Linked DNA regions of Homo sapiens: regions 1, 3 and 4 are each reported to be linked to region 2. Evidence: microRNA targets listed by miRTarBase, many of them from high-throughput screens and not tested one by one. Region 2 holds a microRNA gene; each other region holds the end of a gene's coding sequence.

Evidence for each region. The annotated mature microRNA hsa-miR-16-1-3p reads CCAGUAUUAACUGUGCUGCUGA and lies in region 2 at 2,074-2,095, opposite strand. An mRNA with a match to its seed (bases 2 to 7 or 8) in the 3' UTR can be bound and repressed. Matches are read on the target gene's strand: a 7mer-m8 pairs with bases 2 to 8, a 7mer-A1 pairs with bases 2 to 7 and ends in A, and an 8mer does both.
Region 1: the mRNA of WDCP is a reported target of hsa-miR-16-1-3p. Seed matches in the 3' UTR shown: 7mer-m8 at 1,237-1,243.
Region 3: the mRNA of CHMP2B is a reported target of hsa-miR-16-1-3p. Seed matches in the 3' UTR shown: 8mer at 1,913-1,920.
Region 4: miRTarBase lists SLITRK4 as a target of hsa-miR-16-1-3p. Seed matches in the 3' UTR shown: 8mer at 854-861 and 7mer-A1 at 2,979-2,985.

The regions. Positions count from the first base shown.
Region 1 is chr2:24,028,144-24,031,389 of GRCh38, forward strand. It overlaps WDCP (WD repeat and coiled coil containing), which reads right to left. Exons shown (of 4, transcript NM_025203.3): 4 at 1,204-3,019. The coding sequence ends at 2,790. Among named protein-coding and RNA genes, the nearest start is that of WDCP, 18 kb to the right of the region's middle.
Region 2 is chr13:50,046,912-50,050,148 of GRCh38, forward strand. MIR16-1 (microRNA 16-1) reads right to left here and starts at 2,150; the gene lies at 2,062-2,150. DLEU2 (deleted in lymphocytic leukemia 2) reads right to left here. Exons shown (of 14, transcript NR_152566.1): 6 at 2,673-2,751. MIR15A (microRNA 15a) reads right to left here and starts at 2,290; the gene lies at 2,208-2,290.
Region 3 is chr3:87,253,243-87,256,461 of GRCh38, forward strand. It overlaps CHMP2B (charged multivesicular body protein 2B), which reads left to right. Exons shown (of 6, transcript NM_014043.4): 5 at 162-268; 6 at 470-2,314. The coding sequence ends at 580. Among named protein-coding and RNA genes, the nearest start is that of POU1F1, 22 kb to the right of the region's middle.
Region 4 is chrX:143,626,192-143,629,191 of GRCh38, reverse strand. SLITRK4 (SLIT and NTRK like family member 4) reads left to right here. Exons shown (of 2, transcript NM_001184749.3): 2 at 1-3,000. The coding sequence ends at 597. Among named protein-coding and RNA genes, the nearest start is that of SLITRK4, 8.4 kb to the left of the region's middle.

The DNA of each region.
Region 1 (3,246 bases), not on the chromosome of region 2:
CACCTTGGGAGGCCGAGGCGGGAACACGAGGTCAGGAGTTCAAGACCAGCATGGCCAAGATGGTGAAACCCCATCTCTACTAAAACTACAAAAATTAGCCAGGCACAGTGGCAGGCGCCTGTAATCCCAGCTACTCAGGAGGCTGAGGCAGGAGAATCGCCTGAACCCAGGCGGCAGAGGTTGCAGTGAGCCAAGATCACACCACTGCACTCCAGCCTGGGCGACAGAGAGAGACTCTGTCTCAAAAAAAGAACACAAAAAACCTGGCAAATGAAATTTACCACACAGAGCAATGCAGAGCATGAAGTCAGGAACTCTGCAGAGGGACCCCTCAATTATCCAGCAGAGGCTGGGCTCAGTGGCTCATGCCTGTAATCCCAGCACTTGGGAGGCTGAGGTAGGCAGATCACTTGAGATCAGGAGTTTGAGACCAGCCTGGCCAATATGGTGAAACCCCATCTCTACTAAAAATACAAAAATTAGATGGGTGTGGTGGCGGGCACCTGTAATCCGAGCTACCCAGGAGGCTGAGACAGGAGAATGGTTTGAACCCGGGAGTTGGAGGTTGCAGTGAGCCAAGATTGTGCCAATGCACTCCAGCCTGGGCGACAGAGTAAGACTCCGTCTCAAAAAACAACAACAACAACAACAAAAACCCCCCAAACAAATAAAATTATCCAGCAGAATACTGATTAAAGACATAAATATGAAGACAAAACTTCCATAAAAAGGAAGATAGGTAAATGTGTGGCTTCCTTAAAATTAAAATGTTTGTCCAACACACAAGGTATAAAGAAAGAGGAGGCCGGCAGGAGTTCGAGACTATCCTGGCCAACATGGTGAAACCCCGTCTCTACTAAAAATACAAGCATTAGCCAGGCGAGGTGGTGCATGACTGTAGAACATTAAACAATCCTTTGAAGAATTTAGCTCTTTTCTCCCTGCCTCCAAAGCCAGCAAATATGAGATTATTTTCTATTGTTCCAGTGACTGTAATAATAGCAGAGGTCAAGGAAACATCTCTTGTATGAGAGTTGTCATGGAATCAGATTTGTTGTAAAGAACCATTTATATTCTGGACTGTCCACCAGAAGAAGGAATACAGACAACATATGCATATATAACTGCAAGATTATTGCCGGTTCCTCTATAGCAGCAATAATCGCAAAGAAAATACTACCAAAACATCCAAAACAGCCACAATAACCATTAGTGATTTTATTGAAGACTTATTCACAGTATTTTGACCTGAGAAATGGTGATTTTAACATACCCTTTTAGGTGCCCACATTGATCTTAGTTAACAGTCTTGTAGTTCCCTCTTTAGGCTTCAAGATAATTGTGATTTCATCGCACCCCAGATACTTCCAAGTGGAGCCAGGCCTCAGACTGTTCTCAGTCACTGCTCTCCCACAGCTGATTACAGACATTGCCTGTGCTTCCTACCCCAGCAGCTGTCTAGTGCACTTGAACCACAAAATGGGCCCTCACTTCTTTCCTAACCCAGCTCCATCTTGGTAAACTGTAACAGACAGACAGGAGTCCCCAAGGGCACAAAATAGTTTCTTTCCAGATGATTTTAAAGGAAGGGGGGAAAAGGAAGCATATGTGCTAATGGAGCTTCTATGGCTGAAACAATTTATCTGCAGATGCCTAGCCACTCACTGATCAATTTGTTATGCGCCGTGACTGAAATCTGTGATTCCATCTGAAGGCAGTGAGAAGTGGTGTTACCATCTGAAGTGGGTCAGGGCTCTTACCTGACTAAGCTGGTACTTTAGCCCATAAGTGAAACAAAATGGCACTTTTTAGGACTACCTCAGATTCGGTTGAATTTCTAACTTCCTGAAATACTTTCTCTCACAGATTCTCTGCTGGTCTCTAAGACTTAAAAGGAGAGAAAATAAAAATATCAAATTAAAGTGACAAGTTAACTAAGGGAGCTGACTACTGGGAGAAAAATAGGAAAGTTGCGTGATCCCAAAACTGGATTTAAAAAAAAAAAAAGTTATTTCAGGGACACTCATGAGTGGCCACAGCACAAAATCCTGCAGTAGGACTTACCTGGGCTCGACAGTGTGGTAGCAGCATCGGCACAACCTCAAGTGGAACCCAGAGGGGACAAATTCCCTTGAAATTTCATTCAAAATTTTCCCAGGGCCAGTTTTTAAGAGTACCTGGACCTTCGTCAGCCAGAATTTGTTAAGGAAGCAAGAGGGTTTGGTTTAAATTCTGGGAGGTCCAGGCAACATCAGAGCCACTTCCTGTTCCTGAGAGCAGAAGCCAGTGGGTCTCTGGTCCTCCTTGGAGCTCTGCTAATTCTTGCTGGTTTGAGGTTAATATGCTAGAGCACATGCCCCCCAGCAGACTCCTCAACCTCCTCTTGAAGCCAAGAAAAAGACCTATAACAATGCCAAGGTATCTTTTAAGTGCTCCTAAGACAGCTTCAATGCAGCTTTGGACAAGGGACACAAAGCCTCAGAGAAACCATAAAACACCATCCATATGGCACCATAATATTGTTTTGTTCTGAGAATTCTGCCCTTAGTCAAAACCACACAGTCATGAATACATAAACACCACTTTCGGAGCCATCTAATAAAGACTGAGCTCTGCTACACAGCAGCGAGCCTCAGCTCAGGGGAAACAGGGGGAAACCAGGAGAGCCGACCATGGCAAGCGCTTCGCCTGAGTGCAGTGGGAGTCTCATTGGCGAGTGTCCAGTGTCAAGCAGGCCTTGTTTGTAATGGTCTCATCTGAAGAGCTACACAGCAAGGACACTGCAGATATCAAGCCATGCCATCTACATGGTTACAACAGCCAGTGGTATCTAAACTGGGGGCAGCAAGGCCTGTAAAGACTTTAAGAGAAGAAACAGCACCTGGACTGTGAGAAAAAGAGTCTCTGAAGACATCTGACCTGGACAGGCTGCCATCTCTTATGATTATTTCCTGTGTGGCTGTGAAGGTTAACGGGATAAAGCCCTCACTGTCAGCAGAGAGAAGAATCCAGTGGGAATCTGCAAATAAAAATAAATACACAGGCAATTTAGTATATATTATTCTTATGATGAAACATATGACTACAAATTTTTTTTTCTGAGTGAAGGAATATAGTAGTTGATAATATTCAACTCAATCCTTGTAAGATTTTACAGAGAATGGGGTATTGGGAAGACTGGGTATTACTTAGGGTCAGGTAGGAGAAAAAGGGGAAAAAATGAAATGATATTTGATGTTCAATGTG
Region 2 (3,237 bases):
ACACTCCTTGTACAAAATAATACCAGAGTTATGACAGACTATGCAAATACACTCATCTTCTCCTGAACATCATTTTTAAGTTTAATGACTTTAAAACACTACAGATAAGGAAAAGAACGTAAATAGAGCATTTCTGTTCAGATTTTTGTTGTTGTTGCCGTTAAGATGGAGTCTCGCTCTGTTGCCCAGACTGGAATTCAAGTGATTCTCCCGGGTTCAAGTGATTCTCCTGCCCCAGCCTCCCAAGTAGCTGGGATTACAGACGCCCGCCACCACACCTGGCTAATTTTTTATTTTTAGTAGAGACAGGGTTTCACCACATTGCCCAGGCTGGTCTCGAACTCCTGACCTCACATGATCCACCTGCCTTGGCCTGAGATTACAGGCATAAGCCACCACCGTGCCCGGCCTTTTGTTCAGATTTTAATTAAATTAGGCCAGGGGTGGTGGCTCATGCCTATAATCCCAGCACAGTGGAAGGCTAAGGCAAGACTGCTTGAGCCCAGGAGTTTGAAACCAGCCTGGGCAGCATAGTGAGACCCTGTCTCTATTTTTATTTATTTATTTAGTTTTAATTTTTACATTTTAATTTATTTTTTTGAGATGGAGTTTCACTCTTGTTGTCCAGGCTGGATTGCAATGGCGCGATCTGGGCTCATTACAACCTCCGCCTCCCCGGTTCAAACAATTCTCCTGCTTTAGTCTCCCGAGTAGCTGGGACTACAGGCATGTGCCACCACGCCCGGCTAATTTTTTGTATTTTTAGTAGAGATGGGGTTTCACCATGTCGGTCAGGTTGGTCTCGAACTCCTGACCTCACGTCATCCACCCTCCTCGGCCTCCCAAAGTGCTGGGATTACAGGCTTGAGCCACTGTGCCCAGCTCTACTTTTCTTTTCTTTTTTTTTTTTTGTTGAGACAGAGTCTCCCTCTGTCACCCAGGCTGGAGTGCAGTGGTGCGATCTCAGCTCACTGGAAGCTCCGCCTCCCAGGTTCATGCCATTCTCCTGCCTCAGCCTCCCGAGTAGCTGGGACTACAGGCGCCCGCCACCACGCCTGGCTATTTTTTTTGTATTTTTAATAGAGATGGGGTTTCACCGTGTTAGCCAGGATGGTCTTGATCTCCTGACCTGGTGATCCGCCTGCCTCGGCTTCCCAAAGTGCGTGAGCCACCGCACCTGGCTGTCTACTTTTATTTTTAATAAAAAATTTTAAAAATACAAAAAAGTAAAAAAAAAAATTAAATTATGTTGACATTTTATATCAATAAAACTACAATGATAATTTGGTCTTACTCTGAGTTAAATCTTGAATACAAAAAAGTAAACAAAGTAAACAAGACCTTATTTTTGACTTATCAAACAAAAATCTTTGGCTAAGGATTTAAGAAAACATTTTAATAAAAACATGAAAAAAATAGTATACCATTATAAAGTTAGAAGACATAAGACTAAGACCCCAATCTGTGATGTGTAGCAAATTATTTGAGTTTTGTGTTTCCTTAGCTATCCAATGAGTGGGTTGGTCACTTGTAAGGGTTTTTCTACCTTTAAAGTTATGGTTAAGTGTGACGTTTTGACAACCAGAATTTTAGGTATTTAATTCACATATTTTGATGGCTTTTCCCCTTCAGATATAAAGAAATATTCAGAAACAGTACTAAATATTGTCTTCTAAGCTCTGTTCAAAATGCTTAATATATTTTATATTTATCTGTAAAGACATATTTTAAAAGTAATTTCAAAACAAAGGGAAAACTAGAATTTGTTTTATCCCAAGTAAAAATCTGAATTAATGTCTATGTTGAATATAAATGTGCATTAAAATAAATTCCTCTAATGCTGCATAAGCTTTTTAAAAAAACTTGATGGCATTCAATACAATTATTAAATTGCAATTACAGTATTTTAAGAGATGATACATCTGAAAAATTAGTATTAATTCATTTTTACAGAATCATACTAAAAATAACAAGATTATCAATAATACTGAAAAGACTATCAATAAAACTGAAAACACATTAGTAACATTAATATACATTAAAACACAACTGTAGAGTATGGTCAACCTTACTTCAGCAGCACAGTTAATACTGGAGATAATTTTAGAATCTTAACGCCAATATTTACGTGCTGCTAAGGCACTGCTGACATTGCTATCATAAGAGCTATGAATAAAAAGAAATATATTTTCTTCAGAAGATCAGATCCTTGTATTTTTGAGGCAGCACAATATGGCCTGCACCTTTTCAAAATCCACAAACCATTATGTGCTGCTACTTTACTCCAAGGTTTTATTTTTTTTAAACACACATTCGCGCCTAAAGAATATAAAAAATATTTTCTTTCAGGAAAAAAAGAATGCATGTAAAAAAATCTATGTTTAAACATTATAACATTGATGTAATATGCATAATTATTTTTAAGGAGATTTTAAGTAGAATAATAAAACATTTCTACATCAAAAACTTAACTGAAGTCCATTCTGTGCCCAGCACAGTGCTATAGGTTAGGAAACACAAAGAATAAAATGAGGAAAAGAAAAGCATTTATTTGCTATGCCAACTTAACAGGGCAATACAACTAAATGCTTAAACTTTTGAATATATTCAATATATGAAGTTATTTTTCCTTGTATAAACAAACAAGTAAATTTATAAAATTTGATCTTTACCTTGGTAAAAGGAGAATTTACAAACATTTTGTTCCTTGCAGTACACCTTTCAAAAGACATCTTCATCAAATAGGTAAGACTTCACATCAAGGGAAAAACATGAAATGACATACAAGAGCTCAGTTTCAATAAACTTAAGCTAGCAAAATGCAAATATACTTTTAAAGAAAAATACTTTAATTCTAAATGTTAATTTTATTAAATATCTAATTAAGACATTTTAATTCCAAATATAGTTAAGAAAAAAAGCTCTAAACAAACTAATTCTCCCTTAAATAATTTGTTATTAATAATCTAAATATTTTACTTTCAACATTGATCTTCATACTAGAAGTTCTCTTAGAGTTGGATATCATTTGATACAGTAATTCTAAAATATGAATCCTTAAGTAATTCTAAAATATGAATCCTTGGGATGATGAGTTAATTTGGTACCCTGAGATGAGAAATAAAACAAATCCCATAGCTCTTAATCTTCCTATTCCCTGTTTCTGGCCCATTTACCAGGTAAGGAAGAAACTCCTAGTTTCCACTTTCTCAGATGTAGAAATGAAATTCCTTTTCT
Region 3 (3,219 bases), not on the chromosome of region 2:
TATCAATTTACTTCACTGACATTTTGAAGGATTTTTTTAGTTTGTTCACTGAGTTTGCCTTCTGTAATATACAAAATAGTTGGGCTAGACTGTAAATATGTAAGTCTAACCTGAAGTTTGTTTGAAAGTAACTGCTTTGCTCCTTCTCCCATATCCCCTAGTCAATGATACACTTGATGACATCTTTGACGGTTCTGATGACGAAGAAGAAAGCCAGGATATTGTGAATCAAGTTCTTGATGAAATTGGAATTGAAATTTCTGGAAAGGTATGAACATCATCTTTTCTTAGTTGGAAATAGTTTCTGCCTACCACGTTTGTCACTTAATTGTTTTGTTTTTACTAGGAGGTGCATGGTTTTTATTTCTGTTTCAAAAGTAAATTAAACAGACCTCTTTACAGCACATCCTGTATGTCCTAGTCCAAATGTTTCCTAATGCACGTTTGTCTTTTTCATTGTTTAATATAGATGGCCAAAGCTCCATCAGCTGCTCGAAGCTTACCATCTGCCTCTACTTCAAAGGCTACAATCTCAGATGAAGAGATTGAACGGCAACTCAAGGCTTTAGGAGTAGATTAGTCAAAAGAAGTCATACTATTTTGCTTACTTATAATTATGTAGTATAAACCAAGCACAGTGCAGATTTCTTTTACAAAACACATGTATTTTGCAAAAAAAAAAAAAATGAAGACCATGAGTGAACAGTTGTTTCCTAACCCATGGCTATTTAGAATCTTTTGCCAAAGAATGACAATGATGCAAAAATGGGAACAGTTTGGATTTTAATTAGAACTGTTTAGGAGTGATGATGTGTAAAAAGTTGACTTCTCTTTTGCATGGCACAGAGAAATTATATTCCTTACTTCATGTCAGTTTATGTTCTAAATCTTTTTCACTGAATATAAAAATCTTGTTAAATGCCATTAGGCACCAACTTAAAGAGGGTTGTAAAAATATTAAAAGTATATCGTTAATTCTGTATCTGTTGCTTGTCTTTTGTAAGTGATTATGTGTTATGACCATAGGTGGTTACAGCTGCCAAATTATTTTTAAATGGTCAAAAAGAAGAGTGCTATTTAAACATCTGTCTTAAACAAAAACTGTCATAACTTTTCTTTTTTCTTTTTCCATTAGGAGAACATTCTAGTTGGTAAATTTCAAAATGTGCTTGACACCTGCCTTAAATAGCACAGACCTATTGTGCACATCTTTAAATTATTTCAGCTGGCAGAAAAGAATTACATTTAAAACTGAAATCAAGGCCTCAATACAAAGATTATCCTGGCTCTTTTCTATCTCTGTGGGCCTAATTGAAATATGTACTCTTATTTTAGACACGCCTCTGTTAAAACAGACCAGGTTTTCCTGGTCTCAGACCTATGATGACTTGTCCCTTTGATGTCACTACTGTGAATTGAATATAATTAGTAAAAATAGACGATGAATAAATAACACTTTATAGTAAGAAAACAATATATTTTGGCCATCTAAAAATGAGAATTATAATTATATGAATTATAATTTAAACTGTTTAATTTTGTTTAATGTGTATATTGAATCTTCCAAATTGAAGCCATTATTCTCAATTAAGTACTACAACTATGACAATGCTTGACCTACATTTCTAAAATAAAAATTCACATTTTTTGATAAATAAACTACAGTTTTACCAGAAATTACTATCTAAATGTGTATTAGCAGTATTTTTTAAGGTGAAATTGCCTTGGTATCTAATGAATGTGTAGACAGGGAGATAAAATGAAGGATTGCCAGACTAGTTAGAATAGAATTTAGGATTAGGTTAGTTTTGAAAAATGATGTTGTAATATATGGGTTCTAACACATCCTACCATAAAAACTGGAGGAGATATGTGTAACCTGGTTAATTTGGGATGGTGGACATTTTGGGCTAATACTGACAAAATACATCTTAGGACTAGTATACATGTGACACGGATTGCTAGGAGGAATGAAAAACTAAACTGTATAGTTTATATTCCGTAAACCATTTTATAATGTTCAAAGATTAGGTTTTGTTATTGATAGTATTAAATACACAGTTTCTCTTAACAGTGATGGGTGAAAACATTTTACCGGATTATGGAATGTTTACCAGAACATGTTTTGATTCTTGAATGTACATAATAATGCCATCTAACTTATTTACGTTCTTGTTTACATGTGGGAGCTTTTGTTTTCAAAAATTATTTTGTTAAAAAATCTCAATAAAGATTTATTATTGTTGTTCTTTTCTTACCTTTTTTGCTCTTTTTGGTTCCTGCTAAAATTAAAAATTTTATGCATATTTGGTAATTTTTCAAAAGAATGATCTTTATTATTTTCCTAGAAGTACAATTAGATAAACTCTGCTACTTAACATTAAAAAAAAAACTATCTTCTTAAGAAATAATTTGTACTAGACTAATGTTTGTGAATGTAATAAGCCTAAGAATTGGTGGTTTCACATTAATTTGTTCCCAGTATTCTCAGGGATTAAACATTTTTAAGTTTTATTTTTGAATGTATAAGTCCCAGTGACTTATTTCATTTCAGTCAAACATGGATACCACAAAAGAATTTGGACATAAAAGACAGAGAGATCATTCTGATTTGGCTACATTTATAAAGTGTTCTGGTGGTAGTTTTCACAATCACTGTCACTGTGAATTTGTAATGTTATTCTATCCTTTGCTAAAAAGGAAAGTTACTTTTGAGCCCTTAAAGAATAAGAAATAAGGGTTCTTATAGATTGAGCTTAATGAAAACACTGGGTTTTTTTTAACCTGTTTTTTCTAACTTCTTTAGGCACAAAAATAAATATTTAACAATTGTAATCAAATAAGAGGTTGCTGTAATCAAACAAGAGGTTGCCATAGAAAGAATAGAAGAGTATCTCTATGACTGAAAAGGATGCAGCCCAAAGCCACATTTTGTTACCAAATGAAAAAGTTATTTATGGGGGAAATTTCGGAGTACCAGAGAAGTAGAACGTCATACGAAAATGTCAATACTCATGATAACACCTGTTCTTAGAAAACATAAAATGACCATCTGTCAGATGATTATGTTGCACACACTGTACTGTGTGCTCTGAGGGGAGTATCTGGTTATTGCAAGAGCTAATGGGAAGGGGCTCAAGATTGTGACCCTATGGACCAGAGAGAGGAAGCTGTCAGCCTATGGGCTTTATGTTGTTTGACTTGCACAGTGATATATCT
Region 4 (3,000 bases), not on the chromosome of region 2:
GTTTTTGTCCTGCGACGCAACAAGAAACCCACAGTGAAGCACGAAGGCCTGGGGAATCCTGACTGTGGCTCCATGCAGCTGCAGCTAAGGAAGCATGACCACAAAACCAATAAAAAAGATGGACTGAGCACAGAAGCTTTCATTCCACAAACTATAGAACAGATGAGCAAGAGCCACACTTGTGGCTTGAAAGAGTCAGAAACTGGGTTCATGTTTTCAGATCCTCCAGGACAGAAAGTTGTTATGAGAAATGTGGCCGACAAGGAGAAAGATTTATTACATGTAGATACCAGGAAGAGACTGAGCACAATTGATGAGCTGGATGAATTATTCCCTAGCAGGGATTCCAATGTGTTTATTCAGAATTTTCTTGAAAGCAAAAAGGAGTATAATAGCATAGGTGTCAGTGGCTTTGAGATCCGCTATCCAGAAAAACAACCAGACAAAAAAAGTAAGAAGTCACTGATAGGTGGCAACCACAGTAAAATTGTTGTGGAACAAAGGAAGAGTGAGTATTTTGAACTGAAGGCGAAACTGCAGAGTTCCCCTGACTACCTACAGGTCCTTGAGGAGCAAACAGCTTTGAACAAGATCTAGGTCATGTAATCTTACTTCATACAGAGGACATTTATTTAATGATGAAAGTGCCTTTTGTTGACTTCTAACTTCCAAATACTATATTATCAATAGGCATGGAGGCAGGTGTTTCCAAGGGTGTCTCATTAACTGTAGCTGCAAAGATGTGTCAAGTAGAAGAGAATTTGTTTAATAGATTTTACTACATAAAACCTATACTGTGGAGTCCTGTGGGGATACTGCAAACTCTATTGCCAAAGGGATGCTTTATACACATAATACTGAATTTAACCTCAAGAGGCAAATCTGTTTTGTACCCCAATGCAAAACCTTCGTCTCTTTGTGCTTTGTAAAGCAAACTCAAGAAAACTGGTACACCTGTACCAGCTGGGTCCTTTATCTTGCACGTAGATTAAGTTGGTGGAACTGGAATAATCCTTTTGATTTGTGGCATTGTAACAACTCCGTGTAAAGATTATCTGAAAAGTAAAAAAAAAAAAAAAAAAAAAAAAAAAAAAAAAAAAGCATGCAAAGAGAGAACACTCGATAGTATTTGTAAATTGGTAACCTTTATGGCCTGCATCTTGAAACCGCTGGATTTATAATGTTAATTTGTGCAAATACTTGTTTAAAATATAACATACATTACATAACTATAAAATAAATTTGAACACTTTAAGCATTACCTGTCTATACATAAAAATCTAAAAGAAAAAATCAACGTGAGTTAGATAGCATTTGTGATGATCTGAAGAAATATGTGACGTTTATCAGAATTAAACATGGCTCAAATTAAACTAACACTAGAGTTTGTTCTCAGTTACGTGAAACACCCACAATCCTTCAAGGTTGTCCAAAATAAGCAGAGTGCTTACTGTGTGAGCGCACCCAAAGCTATTTTTGTAACATAATTCATATTTATGAAGTACTTTGTATACTAAATAGGAAAATATGTACTCCTTAATATGTATTTAATATGCCTGACTTGTTTTCCTGATCACAGTGAATTTATCAGTAAGTATAAATGTAGACAGAAAGAAATATACTAAACTGAAACAAGCTGGTGTGAACAGAAATATTCTGGACTTTGTGATCAGGTGTAACTTAAAAACAAAAAAAATTTAAAACAAACAGAAAAGAAAAAAATACAAAAGAACAGTCAATTCTGTGCTATTCTTGTGAATTTAGCGTATTATCTTCAGATTTGTTACCAATTGTGCATTCAAAAATAAGTTCCTTAGTTTTCTAGTATTGTGTCTGGGGCAGTTGTTATTTGCCATCGGTTGTCTTGCTTTTCAGGATTCTATGAGCTTAATTCAAATAGTTTTCGCTACAAGTATTTAAAAAATAATGAATAAGGTTAATAGTTATATCTTGTATGCATCAGTATCCTGTTCTTTCATCATTCAGACTACTATCAGATAATCTAGTAGAACTGTAAACATCATGGTAATCTTGGCTATGAAAGCCACACTGTAAAAATGCTTGCATTGGTTTCAGATGAGTTCACAGTCTGCAACTACAAATGATATGCCCCTGTGTTTGCTTTTGCTAAGATCTAAGTCAAAATTTGTTAAAGGAATAAAGTAACTGATAATGGGTGATGTCGGAACTTTTGTAGGAGCTCCCGATTAACAAAGTGATATTCAGAAACACATTGTCTTCTTGGCCTGCCTGCATATATATATATAGATATATAGATATATATAGATATACATATATATATATGTGTGTGTGTATATATATATGCGTGTGTATATATATGTGTGTGTATATATATACATATATGTATGTGTGTGTGTATACATATATATATAGTGTGTGTGTGTGCATGTGTGAGAGTGTGTGTCCTATCTCTTATAATTACCTTATGAATCAGTAAGATAACCAAGAAGGTAAACATAGCCATTCCTCATGATTGCAAGTGGCATATTTTTTCTGTTGCAGCTTCCAAAATGATACTATGTTTATAGTTGCAGTAGCTGTTCCTTTATTAATCACTAATTTCAGGGCTTTATGTGTTTGTTGCAAGACAAAAAAAAGAAGCTTGGCTTTCTTGGGTGTGTGTGTATGTGTGTGTGTGTCTGAGTGTGTGTATATATATATATGTGGGTATATATTCATACATATAGATAATTTGGAAATCTTTTTTAAATAGCAAAAACCGTCTCCATGTGTATGTGCTGGTGCTCTTAAAACTTTAGTGTGTAATTTTAATTTTTATGACATCTGTGAAAACTTTATATGAATATAAAATAATTCAAACAAATAATTGCTTTCTGATCTTGAAAGAAAAGACAAGATGTGTGCCCAACAGCTTTTTTCATCTACAATTTCATAAGGACTTTTGATATGCCATTACCATGCATGCACACATCCATGGATTAAAGGGCTCCTAATGTATACTGACAGGATAAAGATGCA